Homo sapiens: one gene and its partner. The protein of the gene in region 2 interacts with the protein of the main gene of each other region in a pairwise test. Each region holds a gene or a part of one and is shown on either strand. Other genes may lie near its edges. The genes, in order: RANBP10 and CNTNAP4.

Region 1 (3,820 bases), 8.8 Mb from region 2:
AAAACAGAAAAGGATGGAGTTTTCTGCTTGCTTAGTTCAGGGCATATCCTCACCTCCAGCCATCCCGCACCTGTACTCCAGTCTCTATTATGAGTCATCACAGGCCTAATCACATGCAGGGCCTCCACCCAGGATGCTGGGAGCCTGGCCTGGCTCTGTGTGTTCTGGTTAGGTTCTGGAAGGAAGGAAGGTTTGCTGACTCTGGTGGCTGCTTTGGGATCCCAAACACCCCAGTGATGCCCCAGGAAATGCCTTTGTGATCTTATGGGCCTCTGAAGCCCAGACCATAGCACCCAGGGTCCTGTTAAAACCTCCAGTCCATGGCTCAGAATCCTTCCCTCTTACCTGGAAGCCCCAGAGAGGGGCTGTGGTCCTAGGCAAAGAGAACAGAATCAGGTGGAGAATGCTGACCCTGGCTAGGGAAGGGTCTAGTTATGGGGACGTGACATGAAATGACCAGGCATGAGCATGGCCAGTATGCAGCCACATGCAAGAAGGTATGGGGGAAAGACATGGTAGGCAGTGACGGTCAGGAAGGCTTGCTGGAGGAGGCGGGCCTTGCCTGTGGTGGAGGATGGTAGGGGAAAGAAAGGAAGCGAGAGGTCCTCTGTGTGCAGAGCCCATGGTGGGCTGAAGCCAGCATACAGGAAAAGGTCCCATACCTTGTGCAGGTACAAAAATGCATGGTTGGCCAGGCGCGCTGGCTCACGCTTGTGATCCTAGCACTTTGGGAGGCTGAGGTGGGCAGATCACCTGAGGTTGGGAGTTCAAGACCAGCCTGACCAACATGGAGAAACCCCATCTCTGCTAAAAATACAAAATTAGCCGGGCGTGGTGGCGCATGCCTGTAATCCCAGCTACTCAGGAGGCTGAGGCAAGAGAATTGCTTGAACCCAGGAGGTAGAAGTTGCGGTGAGCTGAAATCGCGCCATTGCACTCCAGCCTGGGCAACAAGAGCGAAACTCCGTCTCAAAAAAAAAAAAGTGCATGATACTCAGGAAGGAACATGGCCTGAGCACGGAGGTGAAGGGTGGACTGAGGGCCCTGGGAAGACCATCTGCAGTGACAGTGGGGAGGAGGCTAGCGAGGCTCTGGACAGTTGCAGTGGGGAGCCACAGGAACCACCAAGTGAGGGAGGGACCGAACAAAAGCCAGTCATGGTAGAGGCTAGGTGGAAAGCAGGGAGCCTCACACCCTACTGGCCAGAAGATCCTCTTAGCGAGCCTCTAACAGGAAGGGTAGCTTCTCTTCACCCTTTGCCAGCACCAGGGGTCTAGACCACCGGTTCCCTTTTGCCATGTTCCCCTCCTCCCTCCTTTCCTGCGTCATCCCATCTCTGCCTACCCCCCATGTATCTATCTTTTGGTTTGTTTTTTTTTTTTCTTTCTGAGACAGGGACTCACTCTTGTCACCAAGGCTGGGTTGCAGTGGCAGAATCACAGCTTACTGCAGCCTCAATTTCCTGGACTCAAGCCATCTTCCCACCTCAGCCTCCCGAGTAGCTGGGACCACAGGTGCATACCACCACACCTGGCTAATTTTTATCTTTTTATTTTTTGTAGAGACAGGGTCTCACTTTGTTGCCCAGACTGGTCTTGAAAACCTGGGCTCAAGCGATCCTCCTAAATTGGCCTCCCAAAGTGCTGGGATTACAGGCATGAGCCACTGTGCCCAGCCTCATGTGTCTTATTTTTTTTGAGACAGAGAGATCCTTGGCCCTGGATCTTTCCAAGAGGAGCCATGACCCACTATTGCAGCAGACCTTCATGGGCACGTCTGAAGGGTCGTGGAGCCCAGCCCATTTCTGTATGCTTTGGCTGAGTTCCAGAAAGGGCTCTTGGGCCTTGAGGACACAATGGCCTCTGATACAGGGCAGGACACTCTCCATGATGTGCCTTGCTTGCTTTTCTTTTGCTTTCTCCCCTCAAGCTTTGGGGCATAATGTCTCTGCTAGGGAGGTGGACAGAGGTGGCTCCGCCCTGCCTCCTCCAGCCTTGCTGCAACTCTCCCAGCCCAAGCATGGGCCAGCAGCAGCCATGGAGGTGAGGTGAGGCCTTAGAACCCCACTGCCCTCAGGGCCTGACTGACATTTCATTCTCCTCCTCAGGCCAACCTCTACCCCACCGTAGGCCTGCAGACACCTGGGGAGATTGTGGACGCCAACTTTGGGCAGCAGCCCTTCCTGTTTGACATTGAGGACTACATGCGGGAGTGGCGTGCCAAGGTCCAGGGCACGGTCCACTGCTTCCCCATCAGTGCCCGGCTTGGCGAGTGGCAGGCAGTGCTGCAGAAGTGAGTGCCCTGCTCCTGCCCTTACCCACTCCCACCCCACCCCAGCCCACTTCACTCTAGGCCCCTGTAGGGCTACAAGCTGTTCTTACAAATTCCAGCGGGTGGATCCTTTCTGGGAAGCATTCCCAGGGCCATTCAGCCTGCAGCTCTCCTGCTTCTCTGTCGTCGGATGGACAGCTCCCACCGAGTTCTCCGGGCTGCTCCTAATTAAACCTTTGCCTCTCAGCCATATTGGAGGCTCCTGTATATAAGATCACCAGCAGGGCTGTTTTCCTTCCCCAGGTCATTTTGCAGAGGATTTTGCAGAGGATGCCCTGTGGTCTCTTCCTCTGTGGACCCTTTTTCTACCATAGGGAGTATCCATGGTGCTGTGACTCTGGCCTGAGGCCACCTCACAGGGCCCAGCATCCAACTGAGTCTCATTCGTCTATAGCGGTGGTGGAGGGAAGGGAGTTCTCCCTAGGACCAGCTGAGCTAGCTCCTTGGCTGATTAATTCCCAGACTGTCCTGGAAGCCAGTGTCGCTGAACTCCCAAGGGAGGCCAGCTTTGGGTTTCTCTTCCACTTGCCATCTGCAAGCCTGAGTGAGGCAGTGACCAGTATCCACTCTGCCAGGAGGTGGGTGTTAGCTTGGCTCTCAAGGATGGGCAGATGGGCATGGGGAAGGGCTGGGCTTCCACTGCCTGTGGTCATTGCCCTGCAAAGGCACCAGGGTGCTAGGATTCCTGGGGTGGGGTTGGGGTACACACTGAGTTCTTTGTGCAGCCTTTGTCCCTTGAGGCAGGCCCCAAGGATGGGCTGAGGCAGGGGCTAGGTGGCCAGACCTTCCCCAGGAAAAACAGCATTGCTGCCTCTTGTTCACAGCCCCCCAGAGCAGATGACAAGGACTTCCTTGGATGGCCAGGACAGCGCCACTCCCAGAGCAGGCTTGGTGGGATTGCCAAGAAGAGGGGTGAAGATGCCAAGTCTGTGTAGGGGAGGAACTGATACTCTCAGTTTTCAGGGCCTAGGCTCAGCACATGGATGTGTTTTTGTTTTGGGGTTTTTAAAAAAATACTGAGATGGGGTCGCACTTTGTTGCCCAGGTTGGACTCCTGGGCTCAAGTGATCCTCCCACCTCAGCCTCCTGAGTAGCTGGCATCACAGGCATGTGCTACCATGTCCAGCATAGCACATAGGTGTTTTTGTTTACATGTGTGTATCCATGTGCTTGTATGTGTTCATATGTAGCATTTGCCAAGACCTGCATATAATTTGTGTACTGTGGTTTTACATAACTTCATTTAATGAATATTGATAATGGCTATGTTATCACAGAGACAAATTTGTCACAAGCCTTTTGGCTGGCTTCCTCTAGTGGAAGGTCAGGTAATTCCTTCTCTTTTACTTGTGTAGGTAACCCTCTTGTAGATAAAGACTTTTTCATATTTACCCTTGTGTTTATAATAATAATATGGTGTAATAATAATAATTATACTTACTTTACTTTTTTCTGAGTCAGGAGTTTACTCTATTGCCCAGGCGGAGTG
Region 2 (3,820 bases):
AATAAAAAAAAAAGTAATGCTTTAAATGATTTTAAAATAAAGAATTGCCCCATGGGGCAGGTTGCTGACAGCCATATTATTTAAGAGCATCAACACTAGGTAGAAAAAAGCAGATTGAGCAACTAACACTTTATAATACATAAAGGTGACTATTAATGGATTTACCATCAACAAACACTAGTTTTTCATAAATGAGTCAAATATTTAAGTAATGAAATATGATGCGCTCCATCTTTGAATATATGATGCTGTCTCATCACCAGGATCTTGTACTCATTCTTTACATTCAACAGATACTTTGCCAAAGCAATTCAGAAATTGAATTTTTTTTGTTTCAAATAGCTGCATAGAAAAGAACTGCCAGACATTTAATCCACATTGAATAAATTTTCCTCTTACAGTCTTCCATGCCACACTTACCATTTGAGCAGAATGGCCCTGTGTATGCAGAGAAAGTGCAGTCACAAAAGAACCCAATGGGTCTTTCTCTGCATTTCCCTCCATTGCGGCATAACTTCCCATAGCTGCTGCAATGTCCCCTACAACCTGGCTGCACTTCTGGAGTCACCTGGGCTCTTTCTTCCAAATCCAGGGTCATCCCATTCAACTGCAGAGACCGAATGCAGCCCAGAAAGCCTCTCTGTCTGGTGGCCGTTCCACCTAAAAGGGAAATACTGCAAATGGAAACATGTTCCTAGGTGTTTTATTCAGGGTTTAAAGACCAAACAAAACTGAGGCCTTACAGAGAACGGCAAAAAAAATGGATGAGCAAATATAATTTTGGAAACACAATTCATGGTCAAATATAGACTCCAAGAAAGATACAACTTTAATTCAATTTTTTTAAAAGTTGAATATGTTACATTTTTTTTCTAAAAAATATTTATTGATCTTTAAATTGAGGAATAAAATAGAGGTCATACACTACTCTCATTGAAAATAACAGTGACATGTATCGTTATTTTAATGTAGAAACTACTTTCTGGGAATTTGAATAAGTATATATTGCTGGGTAAGTGTGGTTTGTCCTTCATATTTAAACCTGATCTTGATTCTGGTACAGTTTTAACTTTGTGAGAATTATGAAGGAGTCCTTGAGATCTTCTGATGGTGCATTGATATGGTCCTTTGGTTGTTATCCATTCATTGAAAAGATGGTAATTGAATGTCAGATTATTTGTTTTTGGCTGACATATTTCCCAGTGATTGTTTTTCTAAAGATTAGTCTAGTGTTCAGTGTTTTATGCTTGGAAAGATTCTTAACAAAATTGCAAAAGGGGATCGATACAGAAATAAGTGATGTAACGGTAACGTTTATTGAATACATAACCATATGTACCTATCAAGTCATCCTTGAAGAGGTCTACAATGTTGGGTTGGAATCAGACCCTATTATTCTAAGGTAGAGTTTCTCAAACTTTAAGAAATATGGGTAACACATAATCACACGGAGAGCTTCTAATAAATAGACTCGGTAGCTTGCTCCAAGAAATACTGGTTCTGTGGTCCAAAAATAGGGTTGTGAATCTCAACAGTTAACAAAGCTTGCAGGAGATTCTAATTCAGATGATCACTAGACCATCATTGTATAAGCACTACCCTGATAGAAGTGTAAGCCCTGGGTAGATTCATACATAAATTTGTGTCCAGGAATACTCTTAAGTTAATGCTCAGAACTTGAAGCGGGAAAAGAGTACCCTAACCTAAATAACCTGGCAATTCTATTGAGAGGCAATTAGATGGTTATGAGGCCTCTAAAAAGAAGCTCCATCTTTGGATAAATGATGGTGTCTCATCACCAGGACCTTGTATGTACTCTTTACATATAAATTCTCTTTTCCTAAAACATGTTCACTTCGTTTCTTCCAAATCATTTAGGTAGCTCCTTAACCTAGCCTTCATTCAACAAGGGCTACTTCAATTGCTACTGTATATCCAGCACAAAGAACAGTGGTAGACAAATAATTTCTGTGTTATAACTATGAAATCCATCCATTCATTTGTTAAACCACAATATACATAGAAATGGGAGAAATGGGCATAGTGCTTCAAGGGTAAAGGGGGACCCCTTTTGCCCCACAGAGATGCTTGGGTCTCTGAGACTGAGAATGAGGCCCGAATTTAATGAACATTTCTAATAAACTAATTATCTCTTTGCAAATAATGAAAGACTATGAAAAGGAACCTCTAAGAATTCCTGAGAATTCTGGACTTACGGACACTAACACTATTCAGAATTCAGATTCATAGCTATAACTATATCCAAATTGCTGTATTTAAATGTCTATTCAAAATGTTTCCATTTACATACTTGGTTTCTCCTCAGTGAAGGATGCCAAGGTCTTAAGGGTGTTGGCTGTTCTATTTATAAATCTATTTATAAATCTAGAGAGTGTCAACATATTGCCATTGTCACAAGTGGGCATGGTAGGCATGGAGTTAATTTCATCACAGAGTTTTGGAATGCCTGGAAATCTTCTTGTTTAATTCCTCCTACATTTACATTTACTTCTGCCATTTTTTTTTTAAGATTTTTAATATGGGTGCCCAATTGAGTTGTTTATTCCTTTTTGTTGTTCTGTTGTAAAAATTAATAGACACATAATAATTGTTCATATTTATGGGGTACATAATGTTGTGATATACATGATATTAGTGATCAGATCAGAGTAGTTAGCATCACCATCACCTCAAACATTTATCATTTTTTAGTGTTGGGAACATTCAATATCTTCCTAGTTATTTGAAACTACATATTATTGTAAACTATAGTCATTCTACAGTGGCATACAACACTAGAACTTTTTCCTCCTGTCTAGCTGTAATAGTATATCCTTTAACAAATCTCTGTGCCCCTTCCCTGTACCCTCCCCATCTTCTAGTATCCTCTGTTCTACTTTTTACTTATGAGATCACCCTTTCCTTAGCTTCCTTATATGAGTGATACCATGCTGTGTTTAACTTTCTGTTCCTGGTTTATTTCACTAAACATAATGCCCTTCAGTTCCATCCATGTTGCTGTGAGTGACAGGATTTTATTCTTTTTTATGCCTGAATTGTATTCCATTACATATATACACCACTTTTTTTTTATCGATTCATTTGTTATTGGACAACTGGGTTGATTCCACATCTTGGCTATTGTCAATAGTGTTGCAATAAACTTAGGGGTGCAGCTGTCTTTTCAATACACTGATTTTCTTTTCTTTGGATAAATGCCCATTATTGAGATTGCTGGATCACATTGTAGTTCTATTTGTAGTTTTTTGAGGACCTGCCGTTCTTGAAGTCTCTCTTCTGCCCTTATCCTCAGGATTTTTCTTTTTCTTCCTTACCAGAGCTGCTACTTCTTTATCTTCACACCTCCCTATTCTTCCACTCTGTTGACTCAACTCAGTGAGCTCCCAGGGCTCAAAGTCTTTGGCCAGGATTCTTTTGGCGTCCTTGTTGGATATTTCTTCCCTGGGTAAGGTCCAGCTCACATCTTGGTTTTCACTTTGGCACAGGAACTTTTTGCAGGGGGGCCACATTCTGTGAACTCTGAATTAAAGGTGTGCTCTTGGTGTATTTAATTTACTTTGTATTATCCCACATTAAATCATGGTATACAGTCTACAGTATACAGTAACATTAAATCACATTGTTATACATTTGCTGCTCTGAAACATGCACAGTCTCCCTAACTCACAGGCTTATCTCATTCTGCCAGTAACAACGTAACTAAATAACTTGGGGTCCAACAACTGACTAAAGTCCATTTCCAGCTGTTCTGATTTTTTTGTGTTTGTTTAGTTTGTTTTGGATGATGGGAAACTAGGGG

What was found.
Region 1: the proteins of CNTNAP4 (region 2) and RANBP10 interact in a two-hybrid assay, tested with the Homo sapiens proteins (one study listed by BioGRID and IntAct).

The regions. Positions count from the first base shown.
Region 1 is NC_000016.10:67,733,330-67,737,149, reverse strand, and holds part of RANBP10 (ran-binding protein 10), read left to right. Parts: intron 1-2,107; coding exon 2,108-2,292; intron 2,293-2,350; exon of another isoform or gene 2,351-2,601; coding exon of another isoform or gene 2,602-2,909; intron 2,910-3,820. UniProt on the Homo sapiens protein: May act as an adapter protein to couple membrane receptors to intracellular signaling pathways.
Region 2 is NC_000016.10:76,532,385-76,536,204, reverse strand, and holds part of CNTNAP4 (contactin-associated protein-like 4 isoform 1 precursor), read right to left. Parts: intron 661-3,820; coding exon 421-660; intron 1-420. UniProt on the Homo sapiens protein: Presynaptic protein involved in both dopaminergic synaptic transmission and GABAergic system, thereby participating in the structural maturation of inhibitory interneuron synapses.